Regions from separate parts of the Homo sapiens genome. Here all the other regions are reported to be linked to region 6. Evidence: microRNA targets listed by miRTarBase, many of them from high-throughput screens and not tested one by one. Region 6 holds a microRNA gene; each other region holds the end of a gene's coding sequence.
The links. The annotated mature microRNA hsa-miR-4701-5p reads UUGGCCACCACACCUACCCCUU and lies in region 6 at 2,487-2,508, opposite strand. An mRNA with a match to its seed (bases 2 to 7 or 8) in the 3' UTR can be bound and repressed. Matches are read on the target gene's strand: a 7mer-m8 pairs with bases 2 to 8, a 7mer-A1 pairs with bases 2 to 7 and ends in A, and an 8mer does both.

Region 1 (4,066 bases), not on the chromosome of region 6:
TGTGAACGGGGCTGATAGAGGATTCCGCCTGCGAGGTCGTGGCGAGGATTAAGTGCTATGGTGACGGCCGGTGCTCAGCGTGCCTGGCGGAGGTTTAGCAGCGGATAAATGGAGATCTGGTTGTGCTGTCTTCCCCCAGCCCACTGCTGTCCTCCTTTCCCCAACAGATTATCGCAATCTGACCTTTGATCCAGTCAGCGCCAACCGTCACTTCTATCTGTCGCGCCAGGACCAGCAGGTGAAGCACTGTCGTCAGTCCCGGGGCCCAGGCGGGCCCGGCAGCTTTGAGCTCTGGCAGGTGCAATGTGCCCAGAGCTTCCAGGCCGGGCACCACTACTGGGAGGTGCGCGCGTCAGACCACTCGGTGACACTGGGCGTCTCCTACCCGCAACTGCCACGGTGCAGGCTGGGGCCCCACACAGACAACATTGGCCGGGGACCCTGCTCCTGGGGGCTCTGCGTCCAGGAGGACAGCCTCCAGGCCTGGCACAACGGGGAAGCCCAGCGCCTCCCAGGGGTGTCAGGGCGGCTCCTGGGCATGGATTTGGACCTGGCCTCAGGCTGCCTCACCTTCTACAGCCTGGAGCCCCAGACCCAGCCCCTGTACACCTTCCATGCCCTCTTCAACCAGCCCCTCACCCCCGTCTTCTGGCTCCTCGAGGGTAGGACCCTGACCCTGTGCCATCAGCCAGGGGCTGTGTTCCCTCTGGGGCCCCAGGAAGAGGTGCTCAGCTGAAGAAGGCATGGGATGGAGCCCTGGCATAGCTGCCACCATGCCTATGTGCCCAAGAGCTGCCCAGCTTCAGCTTGGGGACTGGAGGACCAGCTGTTGGCCTCTCTGTTAACTCAGAAAGAGATGGGAGGTTGGGGGAGGTGAGCATAAACGCAGAGTTCACTGTTGCAGCCTTTTTGAAGGGGACACAGTCTAGGAGGGGGATAAATGGGATGCCCTTGCCCCAGAGAGAACCCAGTTCTAGGTACTGTCTGGGCCTGGGAGGCGAGAGCAGTGCCCAGGGGACTTCTGGGCTTACAGGACAGCGTGTGTGACAAAATTCAGATCTACCTGAACTTGCCTCTGGAGATGATAAGGGCCAAAGGAGCAGTCAGGGAGGGGCGGTGAGCCAGAGTAGTCCCAGGGGGAGACAGATTCCTCCCTCCTCCCCGCCTGCAGCTCTCTTTAATTTTTTGTAACATTTGGAGAGACGTCCGTCCTGTCTTGTAGTCTTTTTATTTTGTGCATCCTTATAATTGTATTCTACAAACAATTTTGTTTTCTGCATTTAAACATTTTTGTGTTTTTAGGAGATGGTCTTGCTCTGTCACTCAGGCTGGAGTACAGTGGCACAATCATGGCTCACTGCAGCCTCGAGCTCCTGAGCTCAAAGGATCCTCCCACCTCAGCCTCCAGAGTAGCTCAGATTACAGTGTTTTCTGAAGTTTCCTGACTTAACATAAGCATTTTTCACATGATTGAAAATTTTCACTGATTGCTGTAGTCATTCTAATGACTATCAAGTTTATTTATCCATTATTGGACATTTAAATTTCTTTCTTTTTAGCTATACAAACATTGATGTGTTTTTTTTGAGACAGGATCTCCATCTGTCACCCAGGCTGGTGTGCAGGGGTGCGGTCATGGGCTCATGGGATTCTCCTACCTCAGCCTCCTGAGTAGCTGGGATTACAGGTGTATGCCACCACGCCTGGCTTATGATGAATATTTCTGAGTGGGATGTTTGGCCACATTTATGGTCATGTATGTAGGCTGTTACCTCAAGTGAGTCACTCAGGGAACAATGAGCACTTGAAGATTTTTTTATACAAAAGGCCACAGTGAGGCCACCTTGAGTCAAGCCGACTAAGGCCCCTCAACCCTGTCACTAAGCAGCACGTGACACTGGCAGGACCTTCATCTCCAGCATCCCACCCCTGGGTGTGGGACTTTGGGGCAGCCGTGTGTGCAGGTGTCGGCACAGGCTAGCTCCTCCTGGTTTGGTGTGGTGTTTGCCATTGCAGAGCAAGCTGCCACGAAGACCCCTGGGCATGATTTTGCTTGTATTTCCGGAAGTGGGGTTGCTGGGTCATAGGGCAGGTGTAATTTTTTTTACTTGAAATGTTCCACTTCTTGTTCTGGGAGGTGGTTCCAAGGGTGTCTGCTTTTGGCCAGGCGCAGTGGCTCACGCTTGTAATCCCAGCACTTTGGGAGGCCGAGGCAGGCGGATCACAAGGTCAGGAGTTCGAGACCAGCCTGGCCAACAAGGCAAAACCCCGTCTCTACTAAAAATACAAAAATTAGCCGGGCATGGTGGTGTGCGCCTGTAATCCCAGCTACTGGGGAGGCTGAGGCAGAAGAATCGCTTGAACCCAGGAGGTGAGGTTGCAGTGAGCTGAGATTGCACCACTGGACTACAGCCTGGGTGACAGAGCGAGACTCTGTCTCAAAAAAAAAAAAAAAAAGGGAGGGCTGTCTGCTTTTTGTAACTTGAAAAACTGGACATCTATGTTATATGTACTCATGGATAAATATTTCACAATAAAACTTTTTAAAAGGATAATACGTGTAATATACATACCCCCAATATATATAATGTTTTTATATTTGTAAAAAAAAAAAACCTCCCACGACGACCCCACCCCGATCACTGCCGTCATTGCAGCCTCCATCTTGTGGCCCTGCTCCTAGCCTGTGGCTGTTTGTTCAAGAGCAGGGCAGGGCCTTGGATTGGCACAGCCCAGGCAAGGACTTTCCAGCAAGATCCTCAGGTGGGAGCTCCCCAGACATGGGAAGGGAATCTGACATGTGCAGCCCCACAGCCAGGAGGCGGGCAGGACCTTGCTGACCAGCTAGGGGCAATGGTGGGAGCTGAAAGCCCAGCCAGGCAGGATGTATTGGCCTGGCCAGATGGCTGTCATTGCTGTCCCCACCTCATAGTCCCTCCTAATCCAAGGCTGCAGCAGAAGCACCCAACGGGCTGAGCCGCGCTCTGAAAGGGGCAGAGAGAGGAAGAGTTGGCCCCTTTCTGCTTCTGAGGTGGGAGGTGTTTGGGGTCATTTATTATGTGAAATTCATCTTCCTATTGGGTGGTGGTTCTTTCTATATTCTGCGAGCGTGTTCTATATTATTAATAATAACCCCTTTTTCTTTCTTTCTTTTTTTTTTTTGAGACAGAGTCTTGCTCTGTCGCCCAGGCTGGAGTACAATAGCGTGATCTCAGCTCACTGCAAGCTCCGCCTCCCGGGTTCAAGCGATCTTCCTGCCTCAGCCTCCCGAGTAGCTGGGATTATAAGCGCACACCACCACACCCGACTAATATTTATTTATTTATTTATTTATTTATTTATTTATTTATATATTTTTTGAGACAGAGTCTCACTCTGTTGCCCAGGCTGGAGTGCAGTGGCTCAATCTCGGCTCACTGCAAGCTCTGCCTCCTGGGTTCACACCATTCTCCTGCCTCAGCCTCCCAAGTAGCTGGGACTACAGGCACCTGCCACCACGCCCAGCTAACTTTTTGTATTTTTTAGTAGAGACAGGGTTTCACCGTGTTAGCCAGGATGATCTCGATCTCCTGACCTTGTGATCCACCCACCTTGGCCTCTCAAAGTGCTGGGATTACAGGCGTGAGCCACCACGCCCGGCGTAATTTTTGTATTTTTAGTAGAGATGGGGTTTCACCATGTTGGTCAGATTGGTCTCAAACTCTTGACCTCGTGATCCACCCGCCTGGGCCTCCCAAAGTGCTGGGATTACAGGCGTGAGTCGCCATGTCCGGCCCCCCTCTTTTCTTCCTAATGGACAGCCTCCCAAGTCAACATAGGCTCAGAGACTCCCACCCTTTATCTTTTTTTCTTTTTTTTTTTTTTTTTTGAGACGGAGTCTCACTCTGTCACCCAGGCTAGAGTGCGGTGGTACAGTCTTGGCTCACTGCAACCTCTGCCTCCTGGGTTCATGCCATTCTCCTGTCTCAGCCCCCAGAGTAGCTAGGACTACAGGCACCCGCCACCATGCCCAGCTAATTTGTTTTGTTTTTGAGACAGGGTTGCACTCTGTTGCCCAGGCTGGAGT
Region 2 (4,066 bases), not on the chromosome of region 6:
AGAGAGTCCCTTGTAGGCAATCCTTATTTGGAATCCGCGCCCCCCCACCCCAACCTCATATTATTTCGCAAAGCATAAAGCACGTAAATACTCAGGTTACGCATGTTGAGCTGAATGAGCTTCTCCTTTGTGCAGGTGGGAAAGCAGTGCCACTCTCCGCTTCACAGATGCCCCCTGCCAAGATGTCAGTGATGCTGCCGTCAGTGAACCTCGAGGACTGCTCTCAGTCTCTGAGTCTCAGCACAATGCAGGAGGACATGGAGTCTTCGGGGGCAGATACCTTCTGAACGGGAAGAGACAGCCAGCACAGTGTTTATGCCACTGGTTTTAAAGTCATTTTACCTTGGCTTAAAACCCTCTCTCAGACTGTTTGGTTTTTGAGCATATTCTGAAAAAAAAATTCCAATATTTTAAAATAAAACAAAAAGCATAATTTGGGTATTTAAAGTTTTTAAATAAAATAAGTATAAGTCATTATAAGTCTGATTGTGAGTTGTTTCTTAGAATCCTGAGATAGCATAGAGTAGTGAAAGGGCATGGCTTTTGACATCTAGGCATTTAATCTATAGGTGTAATTATCTGTATGTATTTATAAAATTATGTAGCTCAAGGTTATTCATTCTAACATTTTTATAACAGCAAATAGAAAAAATCAAATGTCTATCAATAATAGACTGGTTTTAAAGTGATGGTACATCAGTACAATGGAATACTATGTATTACAAAAAAAAATTTAAAAAGTTTATTGATATGGAATAATCTTTGAGATGCACTGTTAAAGTGAAAAAAGCCATGTGCAAAATAGTGTGTGAACTATGCAGTTGTTGAAATTATTTAAAATGGGGTGGGGAGGAATTCAAATGTATGGTATGTCACATATTCTTACATGTATTTGCTTGTAAATATATTATATAAACAAGAAACTGCTAAGTTTGTCTCCAGGGAGTAGAATTGTTGGCTGGGTGATAGGAGAGGCTAAGTGATAGGAATCAAGGATAATCGTGGTTACTATGTATTTGAACTTCAGTTGTGATAGAAAAAAATCATCAGTGAGATTAATTTTTATATGCCTTATGTATACCATATAAACCTTTATAAACCTGTGAAACATGTAACTCTATTACCTTTTGCAACATAAATACATAAAATTAAAGGAAAATAAAAAGCATTGCTTCGTAATCAGATACATGTAGGTTCTAATCCCAATTCTGTAACTTCTTGCTTTGTGATAGGGGCCAACGAAACGCCTTCTTATCAGCTGTTTCAGATTAATGGGTTTAATACTTATTTTTGCAGAATAATGGACATCAGTGATTGTGTGTGGAGATGGGGGTGGGTAGTGCCCAGCACAGTGCTTGATACCATGTAAGTGCTCAATAAATGGTGTTGTTCTTATTATCTTGAGGGATTTCAGTACTGTATAGTAGAGGGCATAAGCACATGAAAAGAAAGGCAGCCTAGCACTAGTGAAAAAAATTTACCTCCCAGAAAAATCATTTTCTGTCACAACTGAATTTCAAACACACAGTAATTACAGTCATCCTTGACTTTTTCAGCATTTTTGTAGGTTGCTAAGTGGATCTCAGCACTGGCAGCACATTAGAACCTCTGGGAGCTTTAAAAAATACTAATGCCTGGGCCTTGTACCAAGGGATTTCAATTTAATTGATCTTGGATGGGGTCCAGCATTGGTATTAAAAAAAAAAAAAGACCTTTTCAGGTAATTTTAATGGGCACTCAAGGCTGAGAATTACTGAAGAGCAATTTAGAATTCCTTAAACTTCTAGTAGGAGCCATTGCCTGGGGATTTTTTTTCTCACTGAACATAGAAGCTGCAAGAGTCTATGGAAACTCAGAAATGTGTCAGCCTTCCACATGCACTTCCTCACAGCTTCTCTCAGGTATTTGGTTACTGGAATGTTTTAGGTTTCACTTTAGAACCCGTTTTCTTTGATATGGCCCTTTGGACAGTTCTGCTTATAACAGTTTCCTTTAAACAAGTGGAAGAAAAATTCTGCTCTGTGGATTTTAATTTGTTTTTGATATTCATCTACAAGACTCTGGGCAAGGTGAAAGCTGGAGAAATGTTGCTTAGTGCTGCTTCATTTTAAACATGACACCCCACCCCCCAACCTTGGTTTCTGGTTTTCATAGTTTTTTCTGCCTTGGAAGGATTTCAGCAAAATCTTGTTTTAGTTAAAGCATTTTTTATTTAAAGGTGTTGGTAGATTTTTCCTCCTAACCATAGAAAGCCTGCCTTTTCTAACTTTAGGGTAGAAGTGTAATCTTTGATTTATTCTACTCCCTGTGCACGTGAGCTTTTCTTTTAAAAAAAATTAGTGTCCATTCGACGGTTTCTTTTTTTTTTTTTTGAGATGGAATTTTGCTCGTTGCCCAGGCTGGAGTGCAATGGCACAATCTTGGCTCACCGCAACCTCTGCCTCCTGGTTTCAAGCGATTCTCCTGCCTTAGCCTCCTTAGTAGCTGGGATTACAGGCGTGCGCCACCATGCCCGGCAAATTTTGTATTTTTAGTAGAGATGGGGTTTCTCCGTGTTGGTCAGGCTAGTCCTGAACTCCCGACCTCAGGTGATCTGCCTGCCTCAGCCTCCCAAAGTGCTGGGATTACAGGCGTGAGCCACCGCGCCCGGCATTCATCTAGTATTTTGTTTTATAGGATTATTTCTGTTCATGGTTACTCCTGTACACATTCCTCTGCCAACCACTTCAGATTCTTTTGGAATAAGACGATGTACGTAAAAACAAACTAAATGGAACTTTTGATTTTATAAGCTTTAAAATTTTTATTTTATATTAAATTTTACAATTTCCAACTTCCGGAATAAACTATTTATGAGACATGCTATTAAGAGACTATCAAGATCAAGGCTGTTACTATTGCTGGGCTGTGACTGGACACGGTGGCTCATGCCTGTAATCCCAAGACTTTGGGAGGCCGAGGGTGGATCACTTGAGCTCAGGAGTTTGAGACCAGCCTGGGCAACATGGCAAAACCCATCTCTACCAAAAATACAAAAAATTAGCTGGTCATGGTTGCACACACCTGTAGCCCCAGCTACTCAAGAGGGTGAGGTGAGAGGATCGCTTGAGCCCAGGATGTCAAGACTGCAGTGAGCCGTGGTTGTGCCACTGCACTCCAGCCTGGGTGACAGAATGAGACCGTGTCTCAAAAAAAAAAAAAAAAAAATTGCTGAGCTATCATGCCTTAACACTAGGTAACGTGTTTAAAATGTTCCTTTCTGCTGGGTGCGGGTGGCTCACACCTGTAATCCCAGCACTTTGGGAGGCTGAGGCAGGCAGATCACCCAAGGTTAGGAGTTCAAGACCAGTCTGGCCAACATGGTGAAACCCCATCTCTACTAAAAATACAAAAATTAGCCAGGCATGGTGGCGTGTGCCTGTAATCCCAGCTACTTGGGAGGCTGAGGCAGGAGAATTGCTTCAACCCAGGAGGCAGAGGTGGCAACGAGCTGAGACTGCACCACTTAACTCCAGCCTGGGCAACAGAGTAAGACTCTGTCTCAAAAATAAATAAATAAATAAATAAAATGTTCCTCTGTTTTAAATCCTAAATTCGTTCTTTGTATACTTTAATAGAATCTTGAATAAATATTTTTATTCTTAGAAGATTATTTCAATATGTTTCTTATTGCTTACAGATTTCTGGTTCCTTGATAACTTTAAAATGCTAAACATATATCTTAAGATCTTTTATTGTTTTTCTATTAACTCAAAACATTTTAAAAATAAGTAAAGTAGCATTTTTAAGTTCATAGTGTATTACCACCCCCAATCAAAAAGTAATTCTGTAACTGGCAGGGCGCAGTGGTTCACACCTGTAATCCCAGCACTTTGGGAGGCCGAGGCAGGTGGGTCATCTGAAGTCAGGAGTTCGAGACCAGTCTGGCCAACATGGTGAAACCCCGTCTCTACCAAAAATACAAAAATTAGCCAGATGTGGTGGCGTGTGCCTGTAGTCCCAGCTACTTGGGAGGCTGACTGAGACAGGAGAATTGCTTGAACCCAGGAGGCGGAGGTTGCAGTGA
Region 3 (4,066 bases), not on the chromosome of region 6:
GTGACGCTGCCTCTCTCTCTCCCCAGGGGCGATGCGATCTCCTATGCCAGGATCCAGCAGCAGAGGCAGCAGGCGGATGAGGAGAAGCTCGCGGAGACCCTGGAGGGGGAGCTGTGAAGGGCTGGGCGCCCCTCCCTCCCTGTCCCCTCTTCTGGCTCTGTGTGGGTCCAAGTGAGGCCTGGACTGTCCACGCTGAGGCACAGCCTGGAGAGGGGCCTTTGCACGTGTCCCTACACCTGGAGTCCTCTGCTCCTTTCTCCAGACTGGCTTAAGCCAGGAGCCACTGGCTGCTGGTGTGAGGGTCTGGGCTGCTGGACTTGAGGCAGAGCCTGCAGCAGCTGTGTGGACACTACCCAGCCCTACTCCTCTGCTGGGTGGGTCTGCAGATCTCACACCACAGACAGGGCTGCCTGTGACCTGCTGTGACCTGGGAGCAGCTTCCCCTGGAGATGCTGGTCCTGGCTTGAGGGGAGGGGCAAGTGGGACCCTGCCACCTGGGCACTGAGCAGAGGGACCTCCCCCAGCTCTCTTAGCAGGTGGAGCCCCAGGGCCTGGGACAGCCTGCCGCTGCCAGCAACCTCCCACTGCTGCCTAGGGTGCAGCGCCCACTGTCACCCTGCCTTCTGAAGAAGCCCACAGGGCTCCTAAGGTGCACCCCGGTACCTGGAACTGCAGCCTTGGCAGTGACTGGACAGCTGGGTGGGGGATGCTCCCTGCTGGCCCTGGGAACCTTGGACAGGCCACCTCAAGGCCCCTCGGCTGCCCCTCCTCCCTGGGCCTGCTGGGGCCCCTAGGTTCTGCCCATCACCCCCCGCCCCTGCTGGCCTTGGTGCTAAGGAAGTGGGGAGAGCAGGCTCTCCCTGGCACCGAGGGTGCCCACCCTCTCCCTGGTGTGGCCCCGTCAACATCAGCCACAGCCCAGCCCCATTAGTGGGTTAGTGGGTCTGACCTCAGCCCCACTCAGGTGCTCCTGCTGGCCTGCCCAAGCCCTGCCCTCAGGGAGCTTCTGCCTTTTAAGAACTGGGCAGAGGCCACAGTCACCTCCCCACACAGAGCTGTCCCCACTGCCCTGGGTGCCAGGCTGTCCGGAGCCAGGCCTACCCAGGGAGGATGCAGAGAGCTGGTGCCCAGGATGTGCACCCCCATATTCCCTCTGCCCTGTGGCCTCAGCCCGCTGGCCTCTCTGACCGTGAGGCTGGCTCTCAGCCATCGGGCAGGTGCCTGGTCGGGCCTGGCTTAGCCCAGGTGGGGTTTGGCAGAAGCGGGCGGGTGTGGAAGATATTCCATCTGGGGCCAACCCCAGGCTGGGCCTGCGCTGAGCTTCTGGAGCGCAGGTACTGGGTCTTGCTAAGTGAACTGTTTCCCAGGAACACCTCTCGGGCCCATCTGCGTCTGAGGCTGGGAGTGGCATCTGAGGCCGGGAGTGGCATCTGAGGCCAGGAGTGGCAGGCTGGTGGGCTGGGCGTGGGGTTTTCTGGGCCCTGCCCAGTACTGCCCTGGGGACTTGGTGGGCTCCTGGGTCAGCAGCATCCCACCCCTGGGAGTCTGGCCAGCTGAGCCCCAGGGTGGCAGGGGCATTATAGCCTGGTGGACATGTGCCTTCAGGGTTCCTCCGGGGCCACCTTCCTCAGGCCAGTGCTGGGTTCAAAGGGCTGTGTGTGTGTGTGTGTGTGTGTGTGTGTGTGTGTGTATGTATATGTGTGTGGGTGCACACATCTGTCCCATGTATGCAGTGAGACCTGTCTACCTCCCACAAGGAGCAAGGGCTCTGCCCGCCCTCTGCTCATTCCTACCCAGGTAGTGGGACCCCGGGCCCCCTTCTGCCTGGCTTGCCTGCTTCTGCCCTTTCCAGAGGGGTCTCACTGACAGCCAGAGACAGCAGGAGAAGGGTTGGCTGTGGATCAAGGAAGGCTGCCCCTGTACCCTGTGGGGAAATGGTGGGTGCATGGCTGGATGCAGAGGTGGAAGGCCCTGGGCCACAGGCGAGAGTGGGCGTGTCACCTGTCCCAGGTTCCCAGCAAGTCTGCAGCTGTGCAGTCCTGGGGTCCCTGACCCTGTCGCCCAGGGGGCGTGCTGTCCAGCAGGGGCCCTGCCTTGCAAGGAACGTCTCTTCCGGCGGCTGGGCCGCTCCTGCCTGGTCTGGGCTGTGTGTGGCGCCCTTTCCTCCTTGTTTGTTCCTCTGTGTTCTGTGTGCGTCTTAAGCAATAAAGCGTGGCCGTGGCTCGCGTGCCTGCCCTCTGCTCCCTTCTGCCTTGGTGCCTGTGTGTGAGTGTGGAAGCCAGGCAGGAGCCGCTGGCCCAGGAAATAACTACAGGTCCTGTCCCGAGGCTGCCCCCAGCATCCCAGACAAGGAAAGTGACCTGCCCAAGGTCACACAGCTAGAAAGAGCCTGTTAAGGGTGGGCCTCGCAGTGGGCTTCCCCTCACTGCAGCCTTTTCCCTGCCCTGCTTTTGCTATGGATCAGCAGTCAGTGGCCCTGGCAACCTTGGCTGGTTCGGGTCTAGCCTGGCTGCTGTGGGGGCTCCTGGAGTAGACCCCACTCTTTCCTCGCTAGGACTACAGGTCCAGTTCCTTTATTTTTACAAAAGGGTGAACACAGTTTGCAGATAGGAGCTGCCTGTTCCCAGAGGTTGGGCTGGGGCAGGAGGAAGTGGCCACGCCAGGTCCTTTGCCCTGGCTTTTTTTTTTTTTTTTTTGGCAGGGGGTGGGGACGGAGTTTCACTCTCGTTGCCCAGGCTGGAGTGCAATGGCATGATCTCAGCTCATTGCAGCCTCCACCTCCCGGGTTCAAGCAATGCTGCCTCAGCCTCCCAAGTAGCTGGAACTACGGGTGTGTGCCACCACACCCAGCTTTTTTGTATTTTTTAGTAGAGACGGGGTTTCACCATGTTGGCCAGGCTGGTCTTGAACTCCTGGCCTTGGGTAATCCACCTGCTTTGGCCTCCCAAAGTGCTGGGATTACAGGCGTGAGCCACTGTGCCCGGCCTGCCCTGGCTTTTTAAGTCCAGGATGTTCCCTGTGGTGCCCATAAGACTTGTGAGGGCAAAGCCGGGTCTTCCTTGCACAGCCAGATGCCACCAGATCAGAGCGCGATGATATGACTACGTTACTTGGCTGCCTCCAGCCCTGTCCTCTCAGTCCTCCCCGTAGCCTTCTGTGGGGCGTGTCCTTCACGCAAGGGAAAGGGACTAGGCCTGAGGTCACCCAGCAGGGCCGTGTCCCTGGATGCAGGGTTGTATGCACTCCTGCGGCCCATGGCTACGTGCAGCACTGTGGGCTGCCTGGGCTGGGGCTGTGGCTGGACAGCAGTGCTACCTGTCCCGAGCCAGGGGCACCCGCTGCTGAGGCCCCATCACACTGCTCTTCCTGTGCTCTGGCTGGTGGCAGGGATGACTGCTGCCTCTTGGTCCCAGGGTGCAGGTTTGTAGCCAACACAGAGGCCCAGCCACTGGGGGTTTGGCCCCCTCCAGGCGGGGACCTTGACCTAGCGCAAGAAGGACCTTCTCCCCGTGCGGAAGAAGGACTCGATCTGCTCCAGGGACCGTCCCTTGGTCTCGGGCACACAGCAGCCTGTGAACACCAGGCTCACCAAGCAGATGGCCGCGAAGAAGAAGAAAGGCACCTGGAGGCCGAAGGTGCTCTGCGGGTGAAGAGCGGGGCCGGGTCACAGGGAGAAGCTCCAGGGTCCTCCTGCCCCAGAGGAGCTCGTGGGCGCTGCTGGTAGTGACCAGCCCTGTGGGGCCTTCATCTGGTCCTTCCTGTGTTCAGAGACCGCCCCCCCACACCAGGGCTCCCCCACTGTCCCCAGGACAAATCCGAAGTAGCCCTTGAAGTCTGCATCCCGTCTGCCCCTCGGCCTTCCTCAGGGGCTGGGCCCTCTGGCGTCAGCTCAGGTACCCCCTCCACACCCCCTACCCAGCGCTGGCATCCCAGCTGTTCCATGCCGCGGCCTGCAGGAGGCCCGCCCTGCAGCCTGGTGGGCACGCAGGTTCTTCTTGGACCCTCTAGGCTGATGGACTCACTCTGGGTTGCCTGCCCTCCCCCAACCCCCCTGCCCTGACCACTG
Region 4 (4,066 bases), not on the chromosome of region 6:
ATTTTTTTGAGAGTATGCAGTTCTATAAATTTTAACATATGTATAGACTCACGTTACCACCACCGCAATCAGGATACAGAACTGTTCATCACCAAAACAAACAAACAAACAAACTCCCTTGTACAGCCTCTTTGTAATCAACTCCTCCCAACCCCAACACCTGGCAATCTCCAATCTGTTCTGTCACTATAGTTTTGTCTTTTCAAGAATGCCATATAAATGGAATCATACAGAATGTAGCCTTCCGAGACTGGCTTTTTCACTCAGCATATGATGTTGAGATTCATCCGAATTGTGGCATGTTTGCCACCATATGGATACATCGCTATCCATTCACCTGTTGGAAGACATCTTGGTCACTATGAATGGAGCTGCTATAAATATCCACGCACAGGTTTTGTGTGAACTAAGTTTTCATCTCTCTAAATACCCAGGAGTGGGACTGCTTGGTCATATGGTATGTGTATGTTAGCATTTAAAGAATCTGCCAAACTGTTTTGAGTGACTGAGTCATTTTGCATTCCTACCAGCTGTGAGGAACTCCAGTTGCTCTGCATATTTATCAGCATTTCAAAATGTTAGCCATTCTAGTGTGTGTGCAGCAGTCGATCCACTGATTCTGAAAAGAGATGTCTTAAAGCTTCTTGTTATAACTGGCTGGCCATTTTTCCTTGTATTTCTAAATTCTTACCCTATAATTTTAAGATGAAGGTTTTTGTTTGTTTGAGACGGAGTCTCCTCTATGGCCCAGGCTGGAGTGCAGCGGTGCCATCTCAGCTCACTGCAAACTCCGCCTCCCAGGTTCAAGCGATTCTCCTGCCTCAGCCTCCCGAGTAGCTGGGATTACAGGCATGCGCCATGACACCCAGCTAATTTTTTTTTTTTTTTTTTGTATTTTTAGTAGAGACGGAGTTTTGCCATGTTGGCCAGGCTGGTCTTGAACTTCTGACCTCAGGTGATCCACCCACCTCGGCCTCCCAAAGTGCTAGGATTACAGGCGTGAGCCGCTGCGCCCGGCCTAACATCAAGTTTTTAAATTGCAGATATATTTTTTTAAAAAATCTTCTGCAACACTGTACTTATCAGCCAAAAGAAGCTTTTGTCCCCTTTACCAATTTTCACCTTGGGTTCTATTTAGTCTGCAGCTAACACAGCCACATTTACTCTTTAGCATCTGCCTGGTATATTTTTGTTCATCTCTTTATAATCTATGACAGCGTTTTAGATTTTGCAAATAGCACACAGTGGGATTTCATGTTTTTACTCAAGCCTAAGGATTCCAGAATTTAACCTGTTCATGTTTATTATGAGTAAAAAACTTGATCTTGCTATATTGTGGATTTTTTATTTCTATGTAGCTTGTTTCTTTTTCTTTCCCGTCTTGTTGGACCTAAAAATTCCATTCCCTCTTTCCAGGTAGTTTTGTAGCTATTAAAGTTGTTGACATACATTTGCTTCCCTCTCTTCTCATGGCAAATGGCAATTCTGCACTTCCCTGGTCTGCTGAACTCAGGCATAACCATGTGACTTTCTTTGGCCAAAGAAATGTGAACAGAAGTGACATATGTCACATCTAGACAGAAGCTTTAAGTCACAATATATGCTGCATCATACTGTCTTTCCTTGGACACTGCAACCAGCAATGTTCCAAATAGTGACGTTCCACCAGCCTCGCTTCCAGATTGAGGTTGATGTTGAATAGGGGCCTCTAGCCAATCTGCCAAAGGCAAACTGCATGGGCACAAATAAACCTATGTTGTTGAAAGTAATTAAAATTTGGGAGCTGTTAATGCAACATCACCTAACCTATCCTTACTAACATACCCTTAACTTTATATATATTTTAATATATTTTTTCAATCAATACCTAGAATCAAACACTACCTGTATCCTTCCCATGAATAAGACAATATCTAGGACAAGCTTTCACTTTCTGTGTCCTGCCATGCCTCCATTCATGTTCAAACCTAGAACTTTGGTTGGACTTTGTTTTCATATGTCATTAGTATTTATTTAGACTTTTTCTGACTACAGGCACCTCTGGTGATTATAAAAGGGGATTTGCAGGTCACAAAGCTGAAGTAGTTTGTCTCATATCTTTATCAATATCTTTATCAGTTTATTTGATCTAAACATCTTTCATGGGGCTGGGCACAGTGGCTCAGGTCTGTAGTCTCAGCACTTTGGGAGGCCAAGGTGGGAGGATCATTTGAGGCCAGGAGTTCAAGACCAGCCTAAGAAAGAACCCATCTTGGCCGGATGCAGTGGCTCATGCCTGTAATCCCAGCACTTTGGGAGGCCGAGGTGGGTGAATCACCTGAGGTTAGGAGTTCGAGACCAGCCTGGCCAACATGGTGAAACCCCGTCTTTACTAAAAATACAAAAATTAGCCAGGCATGGTGGTGTGTGCCTGTAATCCCAGTTACTAGGGGGGCTGAGGCAGGAAGATCACTTCACGGTTGCAGTGAGCTGAGATCGAGGAGGTTGCAGTGAGCTGAGATTGTACCACTGCACTCCAGCCTGGGCAATAGAGCGAGACTCCGTCTCAAAAAAAAAAGAAAAAAAGAAAAAAAGAAAAGAAAGAAAGAACCCAACTCTACAATAATTTTTTAAAACTTCGGCATGGTGGTACATTGCAGCTACTTGGGAGGCTGAGGTGGGAAGATAATTTAAGCCCAATGGTTCATGGTTACAATAAGCTGTGATCCCATCACTACACCCCAGCCTGGGTGACATGAGTGAGACCTTGACTCAAAAAAAAAAAACCCAAAAAACAAAACCACACGTTAATGGGTTCATTGTTCATTTTGCTTAGTTACTCTGAGAAAGATTTTTTCTAAGTAATTAAGTTGCTGATGAAACGTCTAAGACCAATTAATACCTTCCATTTCATGAATTTAAGCTTCAAATGAATCCATTCTGCTGTGTAGTCCATCTTCTGAGTGTTTCAGTTTCATAATCAAATTTTTAATTTCCAGAAACTCTAAATATTTTTTTCATGGCATCCTATTCTTTATGAACACAGTATCTTTATGAATTGCTGAAGATTTTGATTCATTAATTTAAAAATTTCATGTTTCTCCTAGTAACTATCTTCTTGAACAGGTTAATTTTAATTTCATGCCTCCTTTTATGTTACTGGTTTTCTTCAAATTTGATGATTCTTGGTTGTCCATATTTATAAATGAGGGCCTAAGATTAAAGTTGGAAGTGTTATTTTTTCATCCAAATGGGAATTCTGGTTCACTTTTAATGAACACAAATGATTACAGGCACTTATATGGTGATTATAAACGGAAGTGGCAGGTCATCATAGTTAGAGAGATCATGTGGGCAGCTTAACTTCAGTTCCTCTTCGGAGCCATTTTGGATAATTCCCTTATTCTCCGATCCCAGCATTTCTTGGGTCAGAGCTCCCACTTCAGATAGCTGCTTTCTTAGCCTGGTGGCAAACTCCAGAATCAGATGCTCCAAAGATGAGTGGAATGGCTTAGCTGTTCCATCCTTTAATTAACTGGTACTTAAATCATCTGCTTCTTATCTTCCAGAAATTTCACTGTTCAAATTTCTGGTTTTCCAACTCTGCTATTATTTTTATTTTAATATTTCTCCAGTCATTTCAATGGGATTCTAGAAGCATAAAAGAATGTGTTCAGTCATCCATGTTAATGTTCCAGCATGTAGTTTATAATCAGAATTTTTCAAAAAACCAATCATCTCCTATCATGCCGATCCTCTGAAAATCAAGTGTTACTGTCTTGAGATTAGAGATTCTGTAAATACCCATTTGAAATTGGACGAACTCATTATTGGATATAGAACTGGATGGGCAAGCAAGAGTGATGATTTTTGACCACTAGTAATTATGTGTGAATTTAAGACAGGATGACAAGCTCTTTGCTACAGTATCACATCTGAATGTTTTCTGAAAAGGGTCCTGTTTGCATACAGATTGTATATGTGCTGGTAAGTACTCAGTAAAGGTGCATAGTAATTTCTCAGTAAAGGAACACACTTGTACCTTTCTCTAAACCAAATGAAAATACCATATTTCAAAATTAAATGA
Region 5 (4,066 bases), not on the chromosome of region 6:
AAATTATATCACTCAGAGGAGGACACTTCTCAGAATACAGCTACTCATGAAACAGGCACATCATCAGATTCCACATCATCTGTTCTTGGACCTCACACTGACAACATGATTTGTGCTGTAAGCAAAGCCTCCTTGGATTCTGTTTTTTCAGATAAACTTCATTCTAAATATGAATTACAGCAGATTAAACATGAACCTATTGCATCTGTAAGAATCAAGGAAGAACCTGTGAATGTTAATATTCCTGAAAAGACTACAGCACTGAATAATATGGATGGCAAGAATGTTAAAGCAAAATTGGATCATGTTCAATTTGCAGAATTTAAGATTGACATGGATTCTAAATTTGAAAATAGCAACAAAGATTTAAAGGAAGAATTGTGCCCTGGAAATCTAAGTCTAGTTGATACAAGGCAACACAGTTCAGCACATTCAAATCAAGATAAAAAAGACGATGACATTTTGTGCTAAATTTGCATATACCATCTAAAATCCTTTTTTAAAAAAATTTAATGTAATAAAGATTCATGAATTCTGAAAGCAAGCCAAGGACTTGCTCCTATGTCTGTTACAAAACATAGTTTATGTAGCTTTGTAACATTCCTCAGTGCCTGTCCATAACTGTGAAGTATTAAGCACTTAGGGCCAGATGCACTGTAAACATTGCAGGTTTAAACATAAAGGAGTCTTTAAAAAAAAATCATTTACGTTGGAATTTTAGGTTTTAGAATAGAGCTGACATTAACATATATATATATATATAAATATATATATATATTTTGTAATATGAGCCAGAATTCTTTTTCAACAATTTAAAGCTTTTCCATAGAGCTTATTTATATCCTTTTTTTTCATTTTAAATGTGTCAGCACTGTAGTGTAAATAGCTTTTAAATATCTTTTTAGTGTGATTTATACTGAAATGTGAGCCACTTAATAAAGGTTCATATGTTCATATTAATAAATATGTTTTCTGTTGAGTCTGTAAAGACAAACTGACAATTCATTTAAGTCATTTGATAATGATTCTCTGCTGGTATATCTATTTAGTGTGGTATTGTAGTGCAAATGTACGTAATTCAAATCTAGTAAATATTTAAGTTCCTCACACTGTGCAGGCTTTTTTTTTTTTTTCTTTTTTTCTTTTTTTTGATACGGAGTTTCATTCTGTCACCAGGCTGGAGTTCAGTGGTGCGATCTCGGCTCACTGCAACCTCTGCCTCTCGGGTTCAAGTGATTATTCTCCTGCCTCAGCCTCCTGAGTAGCTGGGACTACAGGCACGCACCACAACACCCAGCTAATTTTTGTATTTTTAGTAGAGATGGGGTTTCATCATGTTGGCCAGGATGGTCTTGATCTCTTGACCTTGTGATCCGCCCACCTTGGCCTCCCAAAGTGCTGGGATTGCAGGGGTGAGCCACAGCGCCCAGCCTATGCAGGCATTTTTAACAACCAAGACTCAGTTAAGAAAGTGTGCATCTGCGTGTGTGTGAATGTGTATATATATGTATATATATATCATATTTTGCATAATTTTCTTAAATTGCTGAATAAGATCAATATGTGAAATTCCTTAGCCCTTCTCCCCAAAATACATTGAAAAAAGTTTTATATTAAACTATTAAGAAAGCAGTTTAGGTAATAGAAACAGTTTTAGAAAGTTGGGAGAAACAAGGTATGTTAATGATAACAAAGGCTTCTAACTAATAGTTACGTGGCCAGATTACATAGCCTACCATAGATTTTTTTTATTGTGTATGGGATGATAAGAAGTTTAGAGAATTTTCTTACTAGTAAGTACCTTTACTAAGTAATAGCTAAGTATAAAATCTTTAGTTACAGAAAGCTTGTGAGCAATTAAAATCCTTTTACATTTTTCTTGCAGAATGGGAGAAAAATATGGCAAATACAAAACTGTAAAATAAGGGCAATGACAATGACTCAACTGCCATATAGAGATATAATTAACAAAATACTTTGTGGTACCTCTTATCTCTCAGGATCTCCTCCCTACCCTAGCAAGGCAAACAACTTGGAGTACTTCCTTTTCGAAAGAAGTTCTAGAAATTAAATTGAGGTAGGAGACGGATTGACAGTGCCTAACTAAAGATGAGTAAAACAGACCTCTTTAATGATAGACTCACTATTTGACACTGCTTCTACTATTGTAATTAAAAATCAGAAGTCTTTGATGTATGCGTTGCTGTAAGAAACTCTGCTCATTGCAAATCTATTTTGTTTGTTTTTGGTATTATTCTGGGCACATACTTTGGTTGATGACTTTCAATTGGGGTTCTTTGTGCTGCCTTTTGGGTTACTGTTGGTATTTCCATTTCTGGCTTAATTTATGGTAACCATCAAAACTGCTTATATTTCTGGTTAGGGCGAAGCCATTTAGGAAGAAGCATTTCACCAGAACAAGTAAAAGTTAATTGCAGCAATGATGTCAGTTTTGGCCCCTAGTTTAATAAAAGGATAGGCAAATATCATAGGAAATCTTCATGGTTTGTAGGAAATCAGTGTTTGCAACGTAGGAAGTTTCATGGGATAGGGAAGGTATAAATCAAGATAGTAAGGGTTTTGTTTTATATGTCATTGTCTTACCATGCTCCCCACCTATTTAATCTTCTGTTTTAAGCTAAATTTATGGATTTGCACCTACCTTTTTGAGTGGCAGAAGTTCTTAACAAACCAGTATTGAGAAATAAGAAGGGATGTAGTTAAAATGGTTTTCTGTTTCTCTTTAAAGTTGAAGAATGATATATTTAACAAGAGTTGTGTTTTATTTCCAGTTTTCCAGTAGCATATATGTAGATGCATTGAGGTCATACTGTGAGAAAATGTCTTTAGGGTATCCCTCCAAAATAGGAGCCTTAAACTTTTTAACTTAAAGGAAGGCATATCTAAAAACCATAGTGGTTGCTTTTAGGTATAGTTTCCTATATAACCTATAGTCAGACTTATCTATAATATGAAAATTTAATTGTTTTAAAAATGCATACATCGGCCGGGTGCAGTGGCTCACGCCTGTAATCCCAGCACTTAGGGAGGCCGAGGCGGGCGGATCACGAGGTCAGAAGTTTGAGACCAGTCTGGCCAACATGGTGAAACCCCGTCTCTACTAAAAATACAAAAAAATTAGTTGGGCGTGGTGGCGTGCGCCTGTAATCCCAGCTACTTGGGAGGCTGAGGCAGGGGAATTGCTTGAACCCGGGAGGAGAAGGTTGCAGTGAGCCGAGATCGCCCCACTGCCCTCCAGCCTGGGCGACAGTCTCAAAAAAAAAAAAAAAAAAAAGCATACATCTCTGAAGGTAAAGTATAAATCAGTGGGCTCAAGATTTGCAGGTACAGCCTTGTTAATGCCTTCAATAATGCTTACGTTCCTTGTCTTATGGGTTATAATTTTCACATCCTCTTCAGATACAATCTGAGAACTTGTTGACTACCTTTGTTACATGCAAAAATTTTCTATTTTAATATTGCATTATATTAATGGTTTCATAGTACATTCCAGTTCTTTATCTGAATACAAGCGTTTTGCTTTTATTTCCAGTTTCTTGGACCAGAACAATAAAATACATAAGACATCGTTTCTATATGGTCATATACTATATAGAATAAAGAATTGTTATGTAAATTATTAAATGAGTATACAGACCTTTACATAAAAACTAAGGTACCTCAGTGGAATCTGCTACAGTGCTTCCCCCTCCCTACCCCTCCATTTTGTTTATAACCTTTTAGCTATCTAAATAATACGTATTCCATACTCAGGATAGCTGGTTAGCTAGCAAAAGAATTAACATTTGTGATATTTACTTGCAAACTTTACTGAAGCCATATTCATTATCTTCCTTGTCACCAAGGCTGTTGACCTTAAATAAACATTAAGTTGATTTTGCACAACACTGTATTTGTGTGTGTGCATGTGCCTGTTTTTGTGTGTGTATGTTTGTGGGAAATAATTATGTTTGTTTCCGCATATATTCATTTTTAATGCATTCTGTAACTTTTCTCGAGTGGTGGTCATTGAGGGTAGGGAAGATTTTATTTTTTAAGTTGTCGT
Region 6 (4,066 bases):
GAATGCCTATTCCATGTCAACCACTCTAGTAAGCATTTTACCTGGCTTCATCCTTTCTTTTCTTTTTTTTTTTTTTTGAGATGGAGTCTTGCTCTGTTGCCCAGGATGGAGTGCAGTGGCACAATCTCAGCTCACTGCAACCTCTGCCTCCCAGGTTCAAGAGATTCTCCTGCCTCAGCCTCCCGAGTAGCTGGGATTACAGACATGTACCACCACACCCAACTAATTTTTGTTTTTTTTTTTTTTTTGGGGGGGACAGAGTCTCGCTCTGTCACCCAGGCTGGAGTGCAGTGGCACCATCTCGGCTCACTGCAAGCTCCGCCTCCCGGGTTCACACCATTCTCCTGCCTCAGCCTCCCGAGTAGCTGGGACTATAGGCGCCCACCACCACACCCGGCTAATTTTTTGTATTTTTAGTAGAGACGGAATTTCACCGTGTTAGTCAGGATGGTCTTGATCTCTTGACCTCGTGATCCGCCTGCCTCGGACTCCCAAAGTGCTGGGATTACAGGCGTGAGCCACTGCGCCCGGCCTAATTTTTTTTTTTTTTTTTTTTTCAGTAGAAAAGGGGTTTCACTATGTTGGTCAGGCTGGTCTTGAACTCCCGACCTCATGATCTGCCCACCTCGGCTTCCCAAAGTGCTGGGATTACAGGCATGATCCACCGCGCCCGGCATGGCTTCATCCTTTCAACACCTCTAAAAGGTAGGTATTATTATCCCCATTTTATAGATAAGGTAACTGAAGCTTAGAGAAGTTAGAAGACTTCTCAAATAAGCCAGTAAATGGAGCAGCCAGAATTCAAACCAAATAGTCCATCTCTAGTAGCCATGCTATTAACCACTCCCATCCACCAGTTCATTTGAGAGGAAATACCTCTTATTGGACTGGTCACAGATAAGGACAGAAGTATTCAAGTTTATATAAACCTGATTTTTAATCCCAGCTCTGCCACTTACTAGTTGTTTGACCTTGGGCAAGTTATTTAATCTCTCTGAGAGTCAGTCTCTATCCAATGAAAGGCGATAATAGTATCAGGATTAAAATATGCTCAAAAATTTATAGGACAGTGCCTAATGATCTCTGTTCTTAATATCAGACTTGATATAGGAGGTCAGAGGGAAGAAAACCCCACAGGAGCCCTGATGGGAAATCTGTGATCCCATCCCCAGCCTATAATCCCAGCTTCACCTGGAAAAAGTCCTGGGAAAACCCGCCAAGCAACAAAGCCCTCTTACCAATCTTCATCTGGAAATTGTTGAAGGAGTGCTCATTGATGTGCTTCATCTGCTCCATGAGCCGCATGGCGTAGTCAGCCAGGGCAGTGATGTGGGAGCGGCCCACCTGATCGTAGGTGCTGGCGTTCAGCCCTGAGGCAGCCATGTAGGTGCTACCAATCGTCTTGATCTTTTCCAGCTGCCGGAACCGCTCCTCGCTGATAATCTGAACAACACAAGGAGACCTGGCTGTCAAGGCAAAGACCCCAGACCCAGCCCTGCCCCAACACTCATTTCTTGCCACGCCTTGGCTGCCTTCCCCACTTCCCTGTCTCAAGAGCCCCCTTCCAGCTGCTGCTATCAGTGTAAGACTGAGGAGCTGGGAAAACAGGCAGCCTAGGACTCCAGGCAGGACTTGGGCATACAGCTTCAGAAGGTCCCTCCAGTAGCTCACTCACAGAACACAGACCCACAAGTGCAATATTAAGCAATTTCTCCAATCCTTACCTTTTGGGATACTGAGTCCCAGAGTGAGCAAGTGACTTCCCTCCAGAACAGTGAACAGCCCATTCCTGATCTGGATGTTCAGGACACTACCTCACATTTTGCTTCAATTTTCTCTATTCAGAGGACCATCTTGCTTGGTTGGTCTCATGAGGTTCTGTCCACAGACTATTGCCTTCTTCTTCAGTGACATCCACCTGGTACCTATCCTATCCCCCTACAGATCAAGTCCTCCCCTGCTCCCCAACAGTGATGACCCTGCCCCACTAGGGCTGACCCCCTTGCTGCCTCTGACACCTTCATGGGTTCTTGCCTCTGCCTCCACTGTGCATACCCTTACCCCTGATGACTCTGGGTCCCATCAAATCTCTCTCTCTCTTCCCAGTTCCACTCACCCATTCCAATCCCTGGTCTCCAAGTACCCCCCACTCTCTGCCACCACCAGCCAACTGGAAAAGTACCTCATCAAAGTCAGCGATGATCTCGTTGAGCAGCCGCAGGCACTCGACACCCTCATTGTTTGCCTCCAGCTCCACATAGAACTCAGAGAAGTTGGCAATGGAGGCAAACATAACAGCCACACACTCACACGACTGATAGTAGAGTTCATCATTGCGGCGCTCCCGGGCCAGGAAGTGGGCCGCCACGTCCTTGGGCAGAATGTTATGCAGCAGCCTCCGGTTGTATGCCTGTAGCTCCTCCATCTCCTCCTTCTCCCCTGTTGCCTGTGGACACCACACCCATCACCCATTGCCCGACATTCACAAGGGGTAGGTGTGGTGGCCAAGGCTTGGAAGTGCGGATAAGAGGGAATCACATAGAGAAAGAAAGGCCCAGACAGATGAGGCCTAAAGAACAGGCAAAGGGGTAAAGGGGGCAGGTAGAGGATGGGGCAGGGAGTAAGGGATGGGCACAGAGAAGGAATGGAACCAGGGTGGGCCTAGGTGTGGCCTGAGCCTTAGCCAGCTAGCACAAGATACATTTCTGGCCTGGCCCAGGCTCCGCCCCTAGGTTCCTCCTCTTCCCCCAAAGGCCCACACAGTCACCTGTAGTTTCCAGAGGAAGTCTAGGCGGGCAGTCGACTCCACCTGCTGAGCATGCAGATACAGCGCCAGCGCAAACACCAGCAGAATCACAGGGGTCATATATTTGAGGGCCACCCTCCCTGCAGCTGGACTAAGGATAAGCAGAGACATGCTTGGTGTCTGAAGGAGGCATCTAATGGCTCTACCCTTTGCTGCCTCGGAGCCCTCACTTACCAGTCCAGCCCATCAAAGGTCTCATTGGAAGAAGCCCTGGTAAGAAGATAGAAGAGACAAAGTCATCAGTGCTTCCTGGATTGCTGGGTGGGCACATGGAAGGGGAGACAAGAGACTGCATTTACTGAGCACATACTGTAAGTCAGGCATTGGGCCAGGGCTTTTACTTACATTAATTAACTCATTAAGAGTAGAGGTTAAGAAAACCTCTGCTCTTAGAGACTCCTCTACTTACCAGCTATGTGACCTGAGACAAGTCGCTTAACTCTCTAAGCCTCCTTCCTCATCAGTACAACAGGGATCAGATCTAAATAATGTATGTAAAAGGCTTAGCACAGTGCCTGCCATATAGTCAGCCTTCCATAAATGTTAGTTACTATAATCTTTACAACTACCCTGTGATTTAGGTGACATTGCCATTTTACAGATGAAGAAATTGAGGCTCAGAGAAGCTAACTCACCTGTCTAAAGTCACACAGCTAATGAGCAGCAGAGCAGGGATTCAAACCCAGCAGAGACCAGAGGCTTTTTCTACTACAACAAGCTATGGCCACATATCAAAGGAATGGGGTTTTGCAGAGGAAAAGCCAGTGTGGTGTCCCAGGCAAAGCCCCCAAGCAGGAATCAGAAGCTTTGGTTCCTAACCAGAGCCCTGCCACCAAGCAGCTGTATGTCCTATAGGTGGTTAAGATGGTGGATGTGAAAGCACCATGCAAATGTAAGAGGGAATTTTTTTTTTTAATGTCTAGCCTAAAGACACAAGGATTTCCCAGGACTAGGGTTTCCTTGGGGGTAACTATTTGGGGTCACATGCTGGGAGCTCCTCCATCTCCTCCCTTTCCCCCACAGGGGTGTTGTGGCATTCCAAGGCACAAGGGGCATGGGCACCAGAGAGGCTCACAGTGACCTAGAAAGGTGAGGGAAGCTCCTGGGGTATTAAAGGACCTGAGAATAAACTCACAAGCCATGGACGCCAAGCAGTAGGTCATAGTTGTCAAAGATGGTGGCTGGGGGACCCAGCAGAAGCAGCACCAAATAGATGAGCCCCAAGACAAAGATCATGGCCAACTTCCCGATGCTGCTGAT
Region 7 (4,060 bases), not on the chromosome of region 6:
CTACAGGCACCCGCCACCATGCCCGGCTAATTTTTTTGTATTTTTTAGTGGAGAGAGGGTTTCACCGTGTTAGCCAGGTTGGTCTAGCAGTCTGAGTTTTTAAGGTCTGTGACTGTGTCTTGTTCATATGCAGTGCCTGGCAACACTCAATTCACTATTGGTTGAATGAACAGAAAGATCTGAAAATATCTAGCATGGCCCTGAGCACACTGTAGAAATCCTGCAAATGTTTGCAGACCGCAATTACTTCCAAGGACAGGGACAGCACCTCCTGTTGGGAACATTCCAGATGGTTTGGATGATTAAAGGTAAGATAAGATATTTTTTGTCTGGTACCCATGCCACTTCTTCAGGCAACAGCATCCCAGTTTTCCTTTGGGGAATCACTCTTATTATACCTTCAGTTCTTATAGTTTATGAGAAGCTAAGCAGTTCCTGGAATTTGCAGTTGACTTAAGGCAGATGAGTTAAGATGCAACCCTAACTTTTCCTAGATTTTTTAAAAAGGGGTGCTTTCTTTTCACTAGGATTACTAATCTCGTGCCTCTATAAGAAAACTAACTGTCTAAGAAGCAGACTTGAGAAAGCAACTGAGTCCTGATGATATCATGAGAGGCCCTGGACCCAGCTGTGCCTGAAGCCAACCACCAGACATTTTAGTTATTGAGTCAATTTCCATTCCTTTTTAATTGCTTGAGTTCAGCTTGTCACCTGCAACTGCAATATTCCTAATCCAGTTAGTAACCCTCTTTCACATACACACATACCCATCACACACCTTACAGACCAAACAGAGGAATCGAGCTGACTTTTGTCCCTAAGCACGGGTTTACCTACTCACCTCAAATCTAAATTGTATTTTTCTGAGTTGTGTTGTGCAGTTGACTGTCAATATTTAGCTTTCCTTGTACGGTACTTTCTATACCAAGCTTGTCTGGCCTGTAGGCTGCATGCCGCCCAGGACAGCTTGGTATGGGGCCCAACACAAATTCATAAACTTTCTTAAAACATTGTTTTTTGTTTGTTTTGTAGCTTATCAGCTATCGTCAGTGTTAGTGTATTTTATGTGTGGCCCAAGACAATTCTTATTCCAGTGTGGCCCAGGGAGGCCAAAGGATTGGACACCCCTGTTCTATTCCATGATCAGCAAGTAGACATTTGCGGTGTCCTAAGTAGTATCAGGTGATAAGTCAAGGTGGATGGAAGAGATGCAATTCTCATTTATAGCCTGGCCCAAATTGAACTCCAAGAAACACACACAATAAGCACTGCTCCCTAAGCCTGTGCGCTGTTCTGGAAAGAGCCTACTAAAACAACCTTGGCTTTTCTTTTTGACTCGCTGATGCCAAGGACAGGTCTGTGCATTTACTACCAGTACAATGGGACAGGAAAGTCTCACACACATTTTTTTATTCTTTGAGATGGAGTTTCACTCTTGTTGCCCAGGCTGGAGTGCAGTGGCACGATCTCGGCTCACTGCAACCTCTGCCTCCCAGGTTCAAGTGGTTCTCCTGCCTCAGCCTCCCGAGTAACTGGGATTACAGGTGCACACCACCATGCCTGGCTAATTTTTGTATATTTAGTAGAGACGGGGTCTCACCATGTTGGCCAGGCTGGTCACACACATTTTAACCACCCATCTTTGCTACAAGGGAAAAAGGCCAAACCTTGTGTGGGTGAAGAGGCAGACTCAAATGCTCCCGATGCAGAGGAACGAGGCGGCTACCACTCAATCACCAATTACCATTTGCATGCTACCCAACCTGGACCTTTCCAGGGCATACTGGACCACTCCCCACTTCCTTGGGGTGCAATGAATTGCAGACAGTTTAATCCATGGGCTTTTGCTGATTCTGTTTTCTCTGCTTGGAATGCCCTTCTACACAGAGGAAGTCTTTCAAGACCCAGGTCAAAGGTTAGCTCTCCTGTGAACACTTGTTCCTTTTCTATCTGGTATAAGCAGCCATTTTAACTATCGTTAAAGGTCAGGGTTTCTTAACTTGGGTCTGCGGGTCATTATGAATAAGTTTTAGAGGGACATGTCTGTATCTATGTCCACATATGTTACTCTGGAGGCCAGGGTCAGAGATTCCAGATTCTCAGATTCGGTGACCTCAAAAAAAGGTCTCTTTTGGCCAGGCACAGTGGCTCATGCCTGTAATCCCAGCACTTTGGGAGGGTGAGGCAGGAGGATGGCTTGAGCTCACAAGTTCAAGACCAGTCTGGGCAACATAGCAAGGTATCGTCTCTAAAAAAATAATAAAAAATTTTAAAAAGCTCTTAGGTGTCTCTCTCTTGTGAGTTGAGGGCAAGGTTCACATCTCTTTCGTCTTAGACTCCCCGCACTGATCCAAGATAGACAGTCAACTGCTGGCAGAAGGTTGTTAGTGACTTACAGAGGCAACACTTTCACAGGCAAAGAAGAGAAAACAGGACGGTTTAATTTGTGGAGTCGAGTCGTTTGTTCTTAATTACTGCACTCAACATGCAAATTATATTCACCTCTTGGTACAGAAATGGCACCGTCACTTCCCTGGGACCTTTAATCCAGACAGAATTATTCTTGGGCACCCTTATCTGTGTGTCTACCAACAACTGCCGTCTCTCCCTTCTTACAGCAATATGTAAATTCTCTTTTGTTCCAAGCAACTGGGAAATGAGGTCCTTCATCCAAAGGAGTAGCCATTTCCAGTATAGCACCACTGATTTGTCAATGGATTTGATAAGATTTGATACACTGACATCCAGATCAAGATTTTGCATTATTTATAGACAGTCTCTGATGATCCCAAAGGCACTTTAGAATCTGGCAGTGCCTCAGGGTCACTGATTTTCACTGGGCAGAATTAAGTGATATAGAAGGTTTGCTGAGTCTGTCCTGACCCTGGGTATTCACTCTGAAGAGAGTTTATTTGAATAAGGTTTTGACATATTTGGTCTCTATGTCTATGTAGGCTCAAAATGAACAGGGAGATTCATTTTGTTCATCCATAGTTTCTAAACCTTTGGTAGTGGAAATGGTTTACTTGTGTAAAGAAAGTTAACAATACTAACAAAACTAATGGTAAAACACAGGGTGTTTGGATCCCAAGAAAACAGGAGTTTACTGTGGCTAGATGTCAGGCTGACTGCACATAATCATTAGCTATAATTAACAATGCTTCCTTCGAAGACTGGGCTTCTGCTAAGATAGATATATATATATATATATATATATTTTTTTTTTTTTTTCAGATGGAGTTTTGCTCTGTCGCCCAGGCTGGAGCGCAGTGGCACGATGTCAGCTCACTGCATCCTCCGCCTCCTAGGTTTAAGCAGTTCTCTGCCTCAGCCTCCCAAGTAGCTGGGATTACAGGTGCCCACCACCACGCCCGGCTAATTTTTTTTTGTATTTTTAGTAGAGATGGGGTTTCACCATCTTGGCCAGGCTGATCTTGAACTCCTGATCTCGTGACCCACCCGCCTCAGCCTCCCAAAATCCTGGGATTACAGGCGTGAGCCACTGCGCCTGGCCAAGATTTTATATATTATCAGTAGCCTGAGGTTTCCCCCTTTCTCTGACTTTCATTACTAGAGTCACCAGAAGGAACATTTACAACATTTTAAAAATAACAAGTTGCCCAGCATACTCCTATTTCCTCTAGTTTCAAACATAAAGGGGAACCCAGCCCAGACAAGAACAAGCCTTGCTGCATGCCTGCCAGCTCGTGCATCCTCCTTTTTATTTCAAGAGGTGCCAGCTCCAAACAAAGTTACAAGGTTAAGTGCAACTCCAAGTTCCTGACACAGCTAATCCCTGCTCGGTCTTCAAAAAATAGAGGTCTGTAATTCCTTTTTGAACATGCCTTCGAAGTGGAGGTCTTTGGCCATGAGCTCTTCTTCGACATCATCTAGTGCCCACTGGTGATCCGTCAGCTCCAAAGCTTCCCACTCTGTCTGTAATGGAAGAGAACACCCAGGCAGGAAGAGAGGGAATTGTTACTGACAGCTGTGGCTAACCTTTAGTGACCACTTACTCTGGGCCAAAAGCTGGAGTGAGCTATCTGCATGTATAAGCTCA

Region 1: the mRNA of TRIM65 is a reported target of hsa-miR-4701-5p. Seed matches in the 3' UTR shown: 7mer-A1 at 2,250-2,256.
Region 2: the mRNA of KIAA0586 is a reported target of hsa-miR-4701-5p. Seed matches in the 3' UTR shown: 7mer-A1 at 3,352-3,358.
Region 3: the mRNA of SLC2A6 is a reported target of hsa-miR-4701-5p. Seed matches in the 3' UTR shown: 7mer-A1 at 2,890-2,896 and 7mer-m8 at 2,652-2,658.
Region 4: miRTarBase lists CEP78 as a target of hsa-miR-4701-5p. Seed matches in the 3' UTR shown: 7mer-A1 at 1,534-1,540 and 7mer-A1 at 923-929.
Region 5: the mRNA of RSBN1L is a reported target of hsa-miR-4701-5p. Seed matches in the 3' UTR shown: 7mer-m8 at 1,715-1,721 and 7mer-A1 at 3,094-3,100.
Region 7: the mRNA of EMC3 is a reported target of hsa-miR-4701-5p. Seed matches in the 3' UTR shown: 7mer-A1 at 3,420-3,426.

The regions. Positions count from the first base shown.
Region 1 is chr17:75,887,449-75,891,514 of GRCh38, reverse strand. TRIM65 (tripartite motif containing 65) reads left to right here. Exons shown (of 6, transcript NM_173547.4): 6 at 168-2,552. The coding sequence ends at 736. Among named protein-coding and RNA genes, the nearest start is that of TRIM65, 7.5 kb to the left of the region's middle.
Region 2 is chr14:58,547,646-58,551,711 of GRCh38, forward strand. KIAA0586 reads left to right here. Exons shown (of 31, transcript NM_001329943.3): 31 at 136-3,652. The coding sequence ends at 287. Among named protein-coding and RNA genes, the nearest start is that of DACT1, 88 kb to the right of the region's middle.
Region 3 is chr9:133,468,537-133,472,602 of GRCh38, forward strand. SLC2A6 (solute carrier family 2 member 6) reads right to left here. Exons shown (of 10, transcript NM_017585.4): 10 at 2,558-3,640. The coding sequence ends at 3,485. CACFD1 (calcium channel flower domain containing 1) reads left to right here. Exons shown (of 5, transcript NM_017586.5): 5 at 27-2,312. The coding sequence ends at 117. LOC124902295 (a long non-coding RNA gene) reads right to left here and starts at 31. Exons shown (of 2, transcript XR_007061831.1): 1 at 1-31. RefSeq lists enhancers at 69-228, 309-358, 429-478 and a silencer at 939-1,058.
Region 4 is chr9:78,270,405-78,274,470 of GRCh38, reverse strand. It overlaps CEP78 (centrosomal protein 78), which reads right to left. Exons shown (of 17, transcript NM_001330691.3): 17 at 1-3,630. The coding sequence ends at 3,620. Among named protein-coding and RNA genes, the nearest start is that of PSAT1, 25 kb to the left of the region's middle.
Region 5 is chr7:77,778,698-77,782,763 of GRCh38, forward strand. RSBN1L (round spermatid basic protein 1 like) reads left to right here. Exons shown (of 8, transcript NM_198467.3): 8 at 1-4,066. The coding sequence ends at 471. Among named protein-coding and RNA genes, the nearest start is that of TMEM60, 18 kb to the right of the region's middle.
Region 6 is chr12:48,769,528-48,773,593 of GRCh38, forward strand. MIR4701 (microRNA 4701) reads right to left here and starts at 2,510; the gene lies at 2,448-2,510. It overlaps ADCY6 (adenylate cyclase 6), which reads right to left. Exons shown (of 22, transcript NM_015270.5): 16 at 3,942-4,066; 17 at 2,981-3,016; 18 at 2,768-2,897; 19 at 2,183-2,446; 20 at 1,239-1,443. It also overlaps a transcript of SPMIP11 not described here.
Region 7 is chr3:9,960,262-9,964,321 of GRCh38, forward strand. It overlaps EMC3 (ER membrane protein complex subunit 3), which reads right to left. Exons shown (of 8, transcript NM_001394674.1): 8 at 2,421-3,936. The coding sequence ends at 3,808. Among named protein-coding and RNA genes, the nearest start is that of PRRT3, 9.9 kb to the left of the region's middle.